2 separate regions of the Homo sapiens genome follow, and region 1 is linked to region 2. The links come from fine-mapping of genetic effects on gene expression. Tissue or cell type: whole blood. Region 2 holds a variant in brackets; the other region holds the start of a gene. All regions are shown on one strand. Distances are from middle to middle.

Evidence for each region. PIP is the estimated chance that this variant, and not a neighbour inherited with it, causes the effect.
Region 1: SERPINE2 starts here. The variant in region 2 is fine-mapped to the expression of SERPINE2 in whole blood (Lepik 2017, PIP 0.95).

Annotation. Positions count from the first base shown.
Region 1 is chr2:224,035,373-224,043,285 of GRCh38, forward strand. SERPINE2 (serpin family E member 2) reads right to left here and starts at 3,914. Exons shown (of 9, transcript NM_001136528.2): 1 at 3,727-3,914. LOC124907991 (a long non-coding RNA gene) reads left to right here and starts at 4,030. Exons shown (of 2, transcript XR_007088103.1): 1 at 4,030-4,170; 2 at 6,346-7,120. RefSeq lists a silencer at 4,080-4,374.
Region 2 is chr2:224,120,916-224,128,828 of GRCh38, forward strand. No RefSeq gene overlaps it. Among named protein-coding and RNA genes, the nearest start is that of SERPINE2, 86 kb to the left of the region's middle. The variant T/C (reference allele first, on the strand shown) is at 3,944.

The sequences.
Region 1 (7,913 bases), 86 kb before region 2:
TTTTTTGTTTTGTTTTTGTTTTTGTTTTGAGACAGAGTCTCACTCTTTCACCCAGGCTCGAGAACAGTGGCGCCATCTCAGCTCACTGCAACCTCTGCCTCCCGGGTTCAAGCGATTCTCCTGCCTCAGCCTCCCGAGTAGCTGGGATTATAGGCGCAGCTAATTTTTGTATTTTTAGTAGAGACGCGGTTTTACCATGTTGATCAGGCTGGTCTTGAACTCCTGACCTCAAGTGATCCGCCTGGTTCAGCCTCCCACAGTGCTGGGATTACAGGTATGAGCCACCACGCACTGCCTCATCCAGGTCTTCTGGCTTTTAGGAGAAGCTATACATCCAAGTGGCATCTCCAGATTTCTAAATATTAACTCAAGTTGTATATACTTTGTTCAGGCCAACAACACTGCTGCCTACTGCTAGAAGTGGCACACCGGCCACCATTTTGCCACTTTTGGGCTCTAAAGCAAGGCAAGGCCAGCGTGACTAGAGCGGACCTTTGTGGAATTTCACAGCATGAAGAAGCAACAGGATCTGGTGACAGCCTGCATGTGGGCAGTGCGGGAGCCTGGCATCACCGTGAGACCCCTGCTCCAACATCTCCATGAACGGTGGAACCACTGCCAAAAAAAAACGGACAAATCTTCGCTAACAATGAAGCGGATATGGGGTGGGTGGTGAAAACTAAAATCAATTTTGGATTTATTTTGGGGTGTTTTTTTGGCCTAAAGGGCACGGGTAAGCGCACCAGACTGCAGGTAACTGATTGGAACACAGGAGCATGCTCAAGCTAGCTTAACATGCCAATCTGGGACTCGCTTCATATTGGTGAGAGTCGAAGCTGTGGGAACATGGTTCACCCAAATACACAGAGCACAAAAGGGATGACAGCGAACCCTGGGTAACCCCAAGAGGTAGCAGAGATGCCAGGGAGGAATAAGGAAAACCAGAAGGTGGCAACCAGGGATGGAAAAAAAAAAAAAAACCATCAGAAAGGAATAGAAGAACCTCATCAAATGCCACGGAGAAACCTAGTGGGTATCCATAAGATTGCTTGTTCAGATGAGAACACAGGGACACAGGGAGGGAAACATCACACACTGGGGCCTGTGGTGGGGGGCGGGGAGTGAGGTAGGGGAGGGATAGCATTAGGAGAAATACCTAATGTGATGGGTTGATGGGTGCAGCAAACCACCATGGCACGTGTATACCTATGTAACAAACCTGCACGTTCTGCACATGTACCCCAGAGCTTAAAGCATATTAATAAAAATTAAAAAAAAAAAAAAAAGATTGCTTGTTCAGGAAGTCACAGGCCTTGAACTTTGAGGAGACTCTGGCCAGCTTGCAAAGAGCTGAACAGGAAGGGCAGACCAGTTTAAGAAGCCTGGAGAGACGTGGTTGTCACTACAGGTGAGCTGAGGATGCAGGGACAAGGGAGGTTAAGGCATTCTTAAAATACTACTAAAAAAGAAAAAAGCTCACAGGGAGAGACTGAAGATAAAAGTAAGAAAAGGGAGTAACACTCACAAGGAGAGAGAGGCACTGGGAGTTGGGATTCAGGACACAGCTGGAGACATTAGTCACTGCCCCAAGGAGGCCATCTCTCTATATTTCTCTAAGTTCTCAGTCTAACTTGATTTTTCTTTATAATTCTACCTTATTCATTTATCATACATTTTACAACATATTATGTTTGCTTTTAGTTGGTTTTCTCCCACAAGAATGACAGTTTCAAGCGAGCAAGGATCTGCTCTATTTACCACCTATGAGTATCCAACAAAGTACCCAGACACAGTAGATGCTTAAGAAGATTTATTGGATGACTGGGTAAACACAGAAAAGTCTGTACAGGGGAGATGGGGGAGGACGTGAGGAGATACTTATGACCTCTATTCTCCTGGTAGAATGGGCTACAAAGTCACCTGCCAAACCCGCAAGAGGAAAAGCATTGGAGATCGCTTGCATTGAAGATTACAGTGGGAGTCCGGTTTGCAACCCGGAAGGAAGGAGCTTGCGGGTTGGAGGCACTAAGAGTTTTCAGAAGTTGAGCATCTCAAGAGAGGGCAAGACTTGGAGGTACTTAGAGGACTTGGTAGCTGGAGTACATGGAAGACACTGGATTTGAGACAGTCAAGGAAGTGCGCATCTAGAGCGTCCCCCACATGGACTTTAGGTCTAGAGGAGGAGAAATAGCCCAAGAGCCAAAGTCCCCATGCGATGGGAAAAGAACTGGCTGGAAGAGGACAGCAAGGCTGAGATGCACCCAGGGACGTGGCCAGGTCACCACCTCATTTCCAACTCTACCACCTCAAACAATCTCTGACTGGTATTTAATCACCCTTGTGTGGAAGTGAAAATTAGCTTTTTTTGGAGACAGTACTTTTAAAATTAAACTAATATGAAGTTCATGGGACACGGAAATTTTCTGCATAGATTCATTTTTGTTTTTAGAATAAAATACGATGACATTTTCATGACCTTCAGTAATTGCCCTGCATGGTACGATATTTTCAAACATTATTTTAACAAAGAATCAAAATTTGGGGGTTAAAAGAAACCTTAGATTACTCAGGTTAGTACCTTCATTTGCATAGCCAAAAATTTTTCTATTGAAATACTGCAAATAGCAAATAAGTACTGATTTAGACCTTCAGATAGTGTTGAAACTGTCTTCAATTTTCGAAGTGTGGTTTAGGATATACAAATTAGCAATGTTGACAATTCTTCCAGTTATCTGTGCTCAAGTTTTGATATAAAATCTTCAAAGTACACAATTATCACATATATTGTTCCACAACAATTCAGACAAATAAACGGCTTCTTGGCTTGAAAGAGGAAGTCACACCTTCGAACACCTTTTTATGCTGATGCTAAATATAAGAACGTCCCCTGCAAAGTAGCCAAAGCAAGACAGCAGCATTCGAGATTTCTCCAGAGACACACACACAAAGAATGTGTTTCGTTCATTAAAACACTAAAACCTTCAACAGCATCTTCCATAATACCTGAAGGTGGAGTGCTGTCTTATGTAATAGAAGCCTTCCTTCCCCGCTCAGTTTGTGGACACATTAAATGCCTAATTCCTTCCAGAATTTCTGAGTACCGTACTTTCATTTTACCTGCAGTCACTCATCCGCCTCGCAACTCCCGTTTCTACAGATGATGAAAATAGCAAAGACCTGCTCGCTCGGGTTAAATCGGCTGCCAGAGGCCAAGTTAAAGGCTTTCCCCACACCGCGCGTCACCTCCCTCTGCCCAGGCAGAGGTAACAAGTAAGAGTGCGCCAGTCTCTCCCCATCCGGCGGCGCGCAGCCTAAGTCCGGGGTAGGGGTTGCCGGCGAGCAGCTGGAAACCTCAGGTTCAGGGTCAGGGCCGGCTCGGATGGCCGGGCAGGAGCCACGCCGGCCCCGGTGCTCCCAGCTGCGGGTATCACTGGACGCCACCCCGGGGCGGCCCCGCCTTGCCCTGCCCGGGTCCCGCTCGGGGCTCCCGGCGGGCGGGACCGGGATGCCCGGCGAGCACCCAGCCCCGGCCAAGGCGGCCCGCGGGAGGCTGAGAAAGTTCTCTGCTCCCCGACGTCGGCGCCCCAGGGTCCCGCTGGCCCCGCAGCTTCCCGGCCGGGCGCAAGGTCAGGGAGCAGGGCCGGTGGCGCGCGGAGCCCCGGGGAGCGTCCCCCGCCGAGGGCAGCGCCGGCCGCGCCCGGGACTCACCGCGCAGCCTGTACTCACCGCGCTCGCTGGATCCCCAGGGGGCGGCCGCGGAGGGCGGTGCGGCCGCAACCGGAGCGGGAGCCTGGTCTCGGCGGCGCGGGGAGTCGGAGGACGCAGCCAAGCGGCGGCGGCGAGGAGGGTCACAGCCGGAAAGAGGCAGCGGTGGCGCCTGCAGACGCCGCGCAGCCCGGGCAGCCCCACAGCGCAAGCTGGCTGCCGCGGCGGCGGGGGCTTTATCGGCGGCGCCGCGCGGGCCCCCGCCCCTTCCTGCCGCCCCCGCCCCCGGCCCGCCTTGCCCCGCCTTCCCGCCGCCTCCTTTGTGTGGCCGCGGGCCGCAGCGTCCCCGCGCCCGGCCTCCAGGACGCCCCCTCTCCGCCTGCGACTTCTCGGATGCCGCCCCGCCAGGGGTCCGTGTCGTGGGGCTGCGCCCGGAACGCGCCGGGGAGACGCGCAGACCCCGAGGTGCGGCGCCAGCCCGGGCCCAGCTGCACGTGGGTCTCCCGGATGGGGGTGTGTGAGGTGGCGGGGGGAATACCAGGGCTCGTACCGCGTCCCTGAGACGCAGGGCATGTCGTCTTGGCTGCCCCCTGGAAGAGACAGAGGGCGCCCTGAGACAGCGCTCAGTCCTCCGGGTGATGGGGAAACGGTGCCAGGACGCGGCCGGGAAGGGGCAGATAACCCCTCGAGGCGTTTTGCAGGGTGTCCTAGAGCTGACTTCTCCCTGCCTAGGGGACAGAGGAACGGCGGCAAGTCGCCTTAGGCAAATACAGACGAGGGGAACCAGAAAACTGGATTCCCGGCTATGGTGATAGCATGAGGTACCCGCAGCGTCCTGGGAACCCAGCCCTTCTCAGCCGGTAACCACTGCTGCTGGGACCCGGTGCGCGATAGACAGGCACATACCCCAGGGGCCTGCAACAAATGACCGTCCCGCTCCGGGCTCTGTTACCTGGACCTCTCTTAGTTGGTTCCTCCTTTGCCTCTAGTTAGGTTTCTGGGGACCCAAGGACCCAACTTTAATGACAGTAATTTATGTAGCCGTTAGTGTAGAATCGTCGCTAGCAGGCAGACGGCCCCAACAGCGAGGAAGAAATGTAAATCTCCCTATACACAGCCCTGGATTAAGGGTACAGCTACTGATGAGAGCCACTTGGAAGATCAGCCTGCAGTCACCCCTTGGCATGCAGGTGGCCGTGCCAGAGTGTGCACGTGTGTGTTGGGGAAGGGGTTGCTCTGAAAAGTGTAAAATCTGGACCAGCCTAAGGGTGTTCTCAGTCTCTCATAGAGGGAAACAGGCTATGGGAGGCTTGGTCCTAAAATAAGGAGCAAACAGTCTACAAAAATGAGCATCTGTTTAATTATTTTACAGTCATACCAAATATTTATATTCAGTTACAGGGTAACTTTCTTATTCTCTGTGCCTGAAATGCTTTTTGTCCCAGGATCTTCTATGTTGTCTGCATCCTTACACTTGAGGTCACAACTCAAATGTCCTCTCCCCTAGGAAGCCTCCCCTGACCACTTGAGATAAAGTCACTTTATCCCCTCTAACCTATGACTTCCTTCATAACCCTCATCATGAATTGATTTTTTTTTTACCTTGTTTCTTGCTAGTTTTCTTCTACTCTCTCTCATTGGAATATACTCCCAGAGACCAGGGAAGAGAAACTAATTTCAATATTGTTTCCAACTCACTCTATCCCTAGTGCCTAGAGCCATACCACACATATAGCAGTTACTCAATAAATTTTGTTGACGAGTGGATGAACTACTAGCCAAGTGACTTTTAGACATGCTAAGAACTGTTTCAGTGACAGTATTGTGCTTGGTCCAGTCAGGGCGGTGTGGGCTGGAGCTGGGAACAATTCAAAGGAGGGGGGAAAGCCCACAGGTGTGAATGAGCTCGTTCAGTGTGTTTGAAAAGCTGGGAGTATCCTCTTCCAGATGGAAGGGAGTCATTCAAGAAACTACTGGAGAAATAACTGGGAAATGTGGGTGAAGCCAGATTATTATGAAAATGTGCCAGAATCCCTGCATCCATTTCTGTCTCAATCACATTTCTAAATTAAAATTTGTAATAGAGGTAATTGTAGGCTGGCATGCAGTTGTTAAGAAATGATTCAGAGAGGTCTCTTTTACACTTTGCCAAGTCTTCCTCATGGTAACATTTTGCAAAACCATTGTATAATATCACAATCAGGATATTAACATTGATACGTTGATTCCTATCTCACACACTTTGGTTAATTATGTGTAACTTTAAATTTTTACTAAAGTTACTCAAACCAGTGAGAGAAATGCACAAAATTACTATTTTGAAGAGTTTCAGTCTCTTGTCTTGAAGGAGCCAATGTTTTTCAAGAAAAAACAACAACAAGCCTTTTTTGCTTTCCCAATTAGAGTGTAAATAGGGTCCAAATTCTTCATCTATGAAAGACGTTAGAAGTCCTTAGGACTTACCTCTTTGGGTTACACTTTAATGACTGACATTTACTTCCCCATTCTTTCCTGTAGTGTCGAAGGAACATTTTGAGCAATACTGTACGTGACTTGTCAATTCTGAAATCACAGTGGATGCAGTGCTAACTAATATGCTAAAGTAAGCCTAGACACTAATGTTCCCTTCTCTCTCGCTAGACATGCGATGAGGCCAACGATGAGGTCTCCCAAAGGAAAGTGATTGAAGACAAAGACCCATTCTGCCAGTGGGATATGCTGGGAATACCAACTATACTTGTTACTGAGTGTGCATGGCTGGTGTTGGCCAGCCTTCCTGATGCCAGCAAGAGGAGACAGAAGTAATGACCCAAGCTACACTTTCCATGACACTCAAATGGCCAGGCTCTTTGACACCCACCGTGAGGGGCTGTTCCAAAGATGTTGTGTTCCTACCTCAGTTGGTCCCCACAAGCAGCAGGTTCCTCCTCCAGTATTCTCCAATATTTGACCCTTTTTGAGATGCATTTCTCATAGATGTGTACTTCCAATCCACATTTCCTTCCTACCTCTACCTCGGTTTTGTTTGAGAAATCCAAATCATTTAACACTTCTACCTGCTGTTTCTTTGTGACTTCACATTCACAGTGAAATTTCATTTTGTCCTGCAATTGTGTGGCTTGCCTTAATCCGCAAATAGAGCTTCAAATTGTTTATTCCTTTGACCTGGAGTTTAGCCAGCTCCAGCTAGGCTCTGAGTTTGGCTTTGTGTCCATAAGCCACAGTTGGGAGAAATGCAAGAACTGCCCAAACAGAATAAAACAAATGATCTATTTAGTCTTGTTTCCTCTCTTGGAAGAAGTCCAGCGTTGAGTGCCTTGGAATAAATGAAAATCCCCCACCCCACCTCCACTGCTCTCCCATGCACCCAAACAGTATGACCTTGTGTTTAAGTAAAAACCGTCCTTAGCTCCCAGTGGGATGATGGTGTTTTGTCTGGAAGACTGACGGATGTTATGATAATAAGATAATGGATACTCACTTCTCTCCTATCTAACCCCTATTTAAAAGACATTACACCGTAACAGTGCTTGTTACGCAATATTATAGTTGCAAATGTTGTTATGGAAGATTGTTTCAACCAGGGGAAAAGAGACTGGTAATAACAGTACACTTATACAATTAGTTTCTGAAACTGTTGCATTGCTTTGGGGTTTTTTTTTTTAGCTTAGAAAAGACATTTATCTTTTTATTTCCCTTTAAAGTTGGCTTTCAAATAAATTCAATTTCCTCTTTCTGTAACTTCTGAAACAGATTAAACCAGAGCATCAGTTTGCACTTTGCTATTGTCGTCACTAGTTTTCACCAAGAGCTTCAGAGAAAAGACATTACTAAGTGCTGGGCTGGGTATTATTTTCTACTTATATGTGACCAAATAGGATGTAACAGCCAGGTTCTGAGAGTCGTTGTGATACTGACCCCTTCAAACAACAGCCCAGCTGCTCTCCTTCCTTTTACCACCAAACAATAGATGCTGCCTCCCTTTTTCCATGGGTCTCTTCGGTCAATCTTCTTACCCCATCATCGGGCTCCCCTCCTTTTCTTCCTCGCTTCCTCGGGCCCTCCTTCTCTCCCAAATGTTACCAATAGCTTCCAATGGCAACCCCAGTAGTTTTTCAACATTCTTTATCACCTTTGAGTCCTTGGCAGGATTTCACTCTCATATGTGTGCCCATTTTTTGGAAACTCCTTTGCCTATTTTCTCTCTT
Region 2 (7,913 bases):
CCTTTTCACTGAATAACATATGATAAACATTTTTAAATAATAAATTTTATACTAAAATTTGGCTAGCTGCATAGCATTTCATTTTGTGCAAGGGATTTATTTAATCATTCCCAGATTGCCTGTTTTTTCACTTTTTCTTTTGCTATAATATTTAGCACTGTGAAGATCAATCTGGTAAGCACATCCTTAAGAAGTTACTTTAGGGATATTTTTAAGTCAGAAAAAATTATTAATGTTATAGTTTGTAATCAATATAACATTATAAACATGAATAGAAAATGGCCTCCAAGATGGTAGAAAATGTAATAAGAAGGTTACTTTAGTTTTTAATTTCCAAGTGTATAAAAACAACTTAAAATTTTAAAGAAATAAATGTGTGTAGTTAAGACGTCAAATTTCCCTGGAGGGTTTTTAGGAAAAGCAGCTCTATGAAGAAGGATGAAGCTTGTATTGTCTAATAAAAGAGTGGTGATCCGTCTTTATGTTTTGGAAACCCTAATATGAGAATGTGAAGATCATTTTTAGGGGATACGACCTCCTACAATCAGGCCTTAATTCTTTTGAATGTTTCTTTCAGTTTTTAAGAAAACAACTCTCCTTGTTGGAAGAGCAAAAACCTGTCTGTTGGGCATCTGCTTCCGGGTGAAGTTTAGCTTGGTCTGTTAGTCTATGGACTTCAATTATGCCCTTGTTCCATATTTAGTCCCATGACTCACCCTGACCCTCTGTTGTACCTAGAATCCTCAAATTCAAGCTTCATGTAGTTCTTTAGGGCAGATCATTTCCTTTCACAGATGCTCACTGTCTTAGTTCAACGTTGCTATCACAGAGTACCTGAGACTGAGTAATTTATAAAGAAAAGAGGTTTATTTGGCTAGTGAACCTGGTGGCTTCAAAGTCCAAGGTTGGGCAGCCCTTCTGATGAGGCTCTTGTTATGCTTCAACTCACAGCAGAAACATGGAAGGAAGAGGACATGTGTAGAGAGAACAAACACAAGAAGGGACTATCTGCTTTCTAGGTAACTAATCCAGTCCCATCATAGTAAGAACTTAATCCCGCAAGATGGCATTAACCTATTCATGGCAGATCCTGTCCCATAACCCAAACATCTCCCACTAGGCCCCACCTCCCAACACTGCCACCTTGGGAGTCAAATTTCAACATGAGTTTTCTTGTGGCAGATCACAACCAAACCATATCACTCACCTATCTCTACCTATTCTTGACTATTGTTTTTTCCACTTGGATCATTCACAACTCCTGCATATGATTTCCATTTTTCTAAAAATCTATTGAAATCTTGAATGAAATATTGAGTGTTTATGGTCTCCCCTTTCTCTTCTTTGTTGTGAGTTTATACATTGGTCAAGCAAATTTGTTCAAAATAAGGTTACTTTTTGAATCATTTTTTTTGTGCTATTTTCTTTTTATTATTTCAAAATGTAACGAGTCTTAATAAAACATTATAATAGGTAAGACCATGACAGAATTGTTTTCCCAATAAGAAAACCTATTAGCTGATAAAAGGAGAATAAATGTACTTATGAAACCTCTAATCAATGTGCTAATTGAAAAAGTAGTTCTTTTTCATTGTTGCCAGAACATAAGGATCATTACTGTAACTCATTCATTAGTCTCCAAAGAAGGAGATTGCTCAAACAACTTGACTTCTGGTATTCTTTTAGACATACTGTTCCTATAACACTTTCCCTTATGCATTCTAGCTGACCTAGGGGCAAATTAAAAATTATCAATATAACTAAGATTTCCTCTCTAATTTGCTGCTGTGACTCAGTGCAGTTCACTTTTTGGTGATTAATAAATAGCTAAGGCAACTTGCCCTGTGGACTGGCACAGGATTTCCTGTCTAGTCATCAATCCATTAATCTGGAAACATCAACTAAAATACAGTGTTATTATTGGGCAAAGGACTAGAAGGAGTATAAAATGTGCCCATAGGTAGAAAATGAAGAATTCAGCATCTATTTCCAGACTCCTCAAATTATGCTACTTGAAAATCATTACTGTACCATCACCTGTTAGTCTAGGAAAAACAAAATTAAGAACCATTGTTTGCTTCATATATTAATTGAATTTGTGAGGAGAAACCTAAACAGAGTATTTTAGAGAGTTCATGGCAATCATAGGCCACACTCCCAAGGGCTTTGGTTATTTTCATAACCTAACCCTGTGCCTCCCTAGAAGATCATAGTTCTTGGTGATTTTTGGATGGCTTTTGGTGGATTTTTTAAGCTGTTAAAATTTAGTTACGATTTTCTTAATTTTATTTTTACTTGTCTTCATTAATGAGGCAGAATAGCTAAATACTGGGGATTTATAGAGCTTGGCATTCAAATGTATCTCTTTATTCCAAGAAAGCTGCAGATATCATCTATGCTAATGCTTCCTAAGGTTGCCTGATTGTAGAAATCATTTAATGTGTGCATTGGTTAGCCTCAAAACTCAGTTGCTCAACGTGACCATCTGTTATTGCCTACAAATCTGTAGGCTGACTGCACTTCTGCCAACTGAGTAGTTGCCAGTCAGCTTGGCCTGGCTGATCTTGGTTGGGCTTGCTGTGTCTGCAGTCATTTCTCAGGCACAGTTGGATGGTCTCACTCATATGTCTGATAGCTAACTGGCTATTGACTGGGGTGACAAGGGCCACATGTCTTGAATAATTCAGCAGACTAGATTGGGCCTGCTCACACAGTGGCAGCAAACAAGAGCATAAGTAGAGGCAAGCAAGACCTCCTGAGGTCTAGCACAGCACCAGCCCAGTGTTACTTCTGCCACACTCTTTTGGTCAGAGCAAGTCGCAAGACCAGCCCAAATTCAAGGGTGGGGAAACAGACTTCACAACTTTGGGAGAGGAGCAGGGATGATACATTGAAAGTGGCATGGATTCAGGAAAGGTGGAGAATTCTGACCATATTTACAAAACATCTATCTCAGGATACATGTTTAAAAATGCAGATTCCTAGGTTCTGCCACTGATATCAATGTCCCTTTTCAGATCAAACAAGCTTGTCAACTCTATTCAATACCAACCCCAATTGGTGCTCTCAGGAAACCTAGGGAACTGTCTAGTCTATTCCATCTTGCCCACAATCTCCCCTCTCTCTCTCAGATCGAAGACCTCTCACAACCCCATTTTCTGCAAAACAAGGTCAACTAGGCTGAACTTTTTAGCTCTCCTTTGGAAACATGGGGCAATAACATGTTCCGGGGATAGACTGTAGCTCATGGCATTTGTATGCCAATGTTACTAGCCATTGGTCAAATTTGGTTCTCAAAATATGATGCTATTAGCCCTATAACAAAGTAACTAAATTCATTCCTTCAACAAACATTTATTGAATATCTATCATCTACCAGACACTGTCAACATAAAGATATTAAACATAGCCTTTTGCTTAAACCTTGGTTTTACTAGAGGAAAGAAAAGGACTTTATTACCAGAAAACTTTCAGGAATGATTTGGAATTAGTGATATTAAGCAAAAAATATATTTTATTATGTAATTTGCCCTAAGCATTGACAAAAGGTTTTTTATCTTGAAAATTCATGTAACTTTTGTTATATAGAAATATTTTTTTTTAAAAAAAGAATTTAATGTTCAGGATCAAAATGAGCACTCTTAATTTTTGTATTCCTGTATTTTTCTTTCTTTGTTGGAGGTATCTTTGTTACTTGAAATTTAGTAAAATAAGGAGTAGAATAGATCTTAAAAATAATTTAAATTCACAATGTGACTCAGGTTGAAGAGAAAATTTTATTTCTTGCCAAGGAAATTGTTATAGATAAGATCATTTAAATGTTTATAGTGATTGAGCTATACCAGTGAGTTCTCATGTATTTACTAGTCTATAATAATCGTTCTTACCAGGCATGGTGGTGTGCACCTGTAGTTCCAGCTATTTGGGAGGCTGAGGTAATAAC[T/C]TGAGCCCAGGAGTTTGAGGCTGCAGTGAGCTATGATTGTGCCTGTGAACAGACACTGCACTCCAGCTTAGACAACACAGACAGACCCCCATCTCTAAATATATATATGTGTGTTCTTAAATAATGAGATCTTTCTTCTTTTCAGAAAATTGTTATTGAGTGCCTATGAAATGCTAAAAGTTTGAGATATATCAGTGAACAAAACAAAGATCCTTGCTTTTGTGGAGCTTAATTCTAGCATATTGAAATTCAAAGGATTTCCTAACCTCTAAGGGTTTTGGCGGTTGGTAACTTAGTCAGCTTAGGCTGCTATAACAAAATACCATAGACCAGGCAGCTTAAACCATAGCTTAAACTCACAGTTTACAGGCTGGTAGGTCTAAGATCAAGGGTCTGTCAGATTTAGTTCCTTGTGAGGGCTCTCTCTTTGGGTGGCAGATAGCTGCCTTCTTGCTCTTGCTGTACCCTCACATGGCTGAGAGGAAACTCTGGTGTCTCTTTTTCTTCTTATAGGGGCACTAATACCATCATGGGGGCTCTACCCTAAAGACTTAACTACCTCCCAAAGGCCTCACCTGCTGTGTATTAGTCTGTTTTCATACAGCTGATAAAGACATACCCAAGACAGGGTAATTTATAAAGAAAAAGAGGTTTAATGGACTCACAGTTCCACATGGCTGGGGAGGCTTCATGATCATGGTGGAAGGCAAGAGGCACGTCTTACATGGCAGCAGACAAGACAGAATGAGAGCTAAGCGAAAGGGGAATCCCCTTATAAAATCATCAGATCTCGGGGGACTTATTCACTACCATGAGATTAGTATGGGGGGAACCACCTCCGTGATTCAGTTATCTCCAACTATGTCCCTCCCACAACATATGGGAATTATGGGAGCTACAATTCAAGGTGAGATTTGGGCGGGAACACAGCCAAACCATATCATCATATTGAAGTAAGACTTCAATACATGAGTTTTGGAGGAGACACAGACATTCAGTCCATAACAGTGACAGTACCTTGTACTCAAAGTAAAAAATAAAAATCAAGGGAAAGGTGAGACAAATATGGTGTTATAGGAGTCCTCATTTTGTAAATTTTCCCCCAGAAGGTTTTGATTTCTGAAGATATCAATTGCACCTCCCCTGAAACATAATCCATTTAAATTATGAAGTCCTGGAAAATAAGGATAGGAAATACTTTCCAAGGAGACCGGGGTTCTGAGAGTGTCTGGGGAGGAGCATGGGAATTTGGGTATTTATGGTTCCCAGAAAGGCCCAGCCTGGAGCCTCAGCAAGGAGGTGGTTATGTGAGGCGAGCAGCCCTCCAGATGCAGGGGCTCTCAGGCCAGGGCCCACAGGAAGCCGAGGGCGTGGCTGGCTGAGGCTGAAGGAAAATTCCAGGGCTGAGAGGCAGTGCCTTGGGGACGCCACAGTGTCTTCAGCCTGGGCTTCATTATACAAACAATAACAAAAAGCCTCAGACAACAACAACAAAATACTCTCAAAGTGGGAATATTCTGAAATGGAATAAAACAAATAATATCTAAGTAGTTTATTTTGTTAGAAAGAAAAAGGATGATTTCAGCCTTCAGGTCTTATTAATAAAAGAGCCTTCAGAGAAGAGAAAAGATATCTCAGAGGAAGCAAGAAAGATGCGATGAACCCCAGGGAAGGCTGTTTGGGGGAAATCCAAGTTTGGATGAAGCTGTGGCTGTGGAGGATGGTCTGGGAGTTACTGGCCTGAAATAGTCACGAGGAACCTGAGCAGAGAAAGAAGACTCTGAGATCAATCAGGAAAGCTTGAGCCCAGTGTGTGGTTTGGATCAGAGCACAGCTCAAGTCCAAAAAGCCAGTGAGGTTCAGGAGCTCGCGGTCTTCCTGACAGCCACATCATCCATCTCCTCTCCACACCCTTCACAGCCACCTCCTCACAGAACAGGCTACGGCTCATTTCTACCCAACGGCTGCCAATGTCTGTAGCTAATTTTCTTGTTTCTTTAGGCCCCTCAGATGTTGAGCGGATGAATAAATATTTAATCTGATCATCAGGATATATACATACATATCATGGCTTGTATCATGTATCTACCTGTATGTGCAAGGTACATATGATGAGAAATACTTGCGAGGCTAGAACTGACCAGGTAATCAACCCTGAGAGGAATCACAAAGTCAAGCTAATCTTAAAGGCAGGGTAAATTAGAAATTAGGCATCGGGATCTGGAGTCAAGCCTCTTTGGCTCTCCTCGTATCTCTAGCACTTCCTACTTGCGTGACCCCCGGTAAATCACTGAATTTCTCTTGATTCAGTTTCCCTTTTGTAGTTTGTGGAGTTTATGGAGTTGTCGGAGGGATAAATGAGTTTGTACACGGAGAGAGCTTAGAATGCTGTCTGCCCATATTATGGCACTCAATAAATGATGGCTGTAATTCCCTGCTTTGAACCAGTTGTCAAAATGGTCAGAGCAGTTTGTCAACAATTTAAATGCTTTCACATATGAAGCAGGTAACACCTATGCATAAAACCAGGCAGAGGTTTGTGTGAGTTGATGCATCCTTGTCTAGCTGAAATGAACAACGGCTGCCCAAATCTAACCCTTCTTGTCAGTATTGCCACATCTTGTGATTTGTCAAGACAAGTTGGGTATCAGGATTTTTGCATGAAACCTCTCAGTTTTTAAATACTGGAAACTATCTTAAATGTTTTTTAAAAACTCAGTGCAGCCCTGGCAAAATGTCCCTGCATCCTGTGTCCTACCCATGAACCAGAAGTTTGCCACCACTGATGAACGCGGTCTGACACAGTCCCAGATGTTTGAGCAGAAAGCATGACTGAAAAGATCTCTGGAGAAGCATTGAGAAAGACTTGCCATTAGAGAAGGGTTTTGATGTCTGTTTGTTGTTCAATGTCAAAGGCAAGCCTAACGCAAATAATGTGTTTTTCTTGTTCTTCTCAGTGAAGCAGCTGGGTTGATCCCTTCATCTGGTCATCAGACACATAGCCCTTCAGTGCTACACCACCTTAAAAATGAAACCTGAACGACTGTCCTTGGTGTTTATCTTGATCTGGGTTGATTTTCACCAGGCCACCCTGCTAACTGTTCCTCTTTGTCAGCTTAAGCACAGCTCAGCACATTTCCATCAAATCCTGCCCTGTCCAGTGCCTTGCTTGGAACACTGAGTTAAGTATTAAGAGGAAACAGATAAATGTGTTTGACCCAAAAGAACCTCCACGCAAAAGAATTAAACAGTAGACATAATTCAGATATTTGAGAACTGATTCAGGTCCAGCCTCATGAGACAGTGAACACTTTTGTAAAACTCACTTACCGGAGTTTTGGTTTTTGGTTTGGACATGTCTTCTTAAGTATGGCCTTTGTTCCATACTTATGATACTGACTCTTAACTTTTGAGATTTTGCAGATGTGTGGAATGGCGTAGGAAAGTGAAAAGTCTAATATAAGAGAAGCACTGTTGTAAGTTAAATGGATGTAATAAAAAGCATTCTGCATTTGAGAATCTAGTAACTTGGTTGTTGCCTGGCTAGGGGCCAGGTTCGCATATCTTGTTAGATATGTGAGCCTATTCAAGTTATTACTTCAGCTTGCAGTGAAATGAATCAATATTAAAACCACAGAGATTCCCACAGCAACTCAGCAGCTTATCTAATAACTTAACCTCACTCTCCTCATTTTCTTCTTGAAACTAATATCTGCTGGTTCATAAAACCGTTATATGCCTGCCTATCTTGCAGCCTCCTTCTGAGGAACGTGTCTTGGGAGTTTGAACTGTGGTGCCTTCCCACCTACTGCCAGGGACCCTGTCATCCTGACCATAACAGTCTGGCCTGGACCTCTGGTCTTTGTTGGAACGAAAAGGAACTATAAGGAAACTCAACAATGAGGCAGCTTGGTGTGAGGCTGCCTAAGAGTAGAGTTCTATAGTGAAAGGTGTCATACTGGCCCAAACA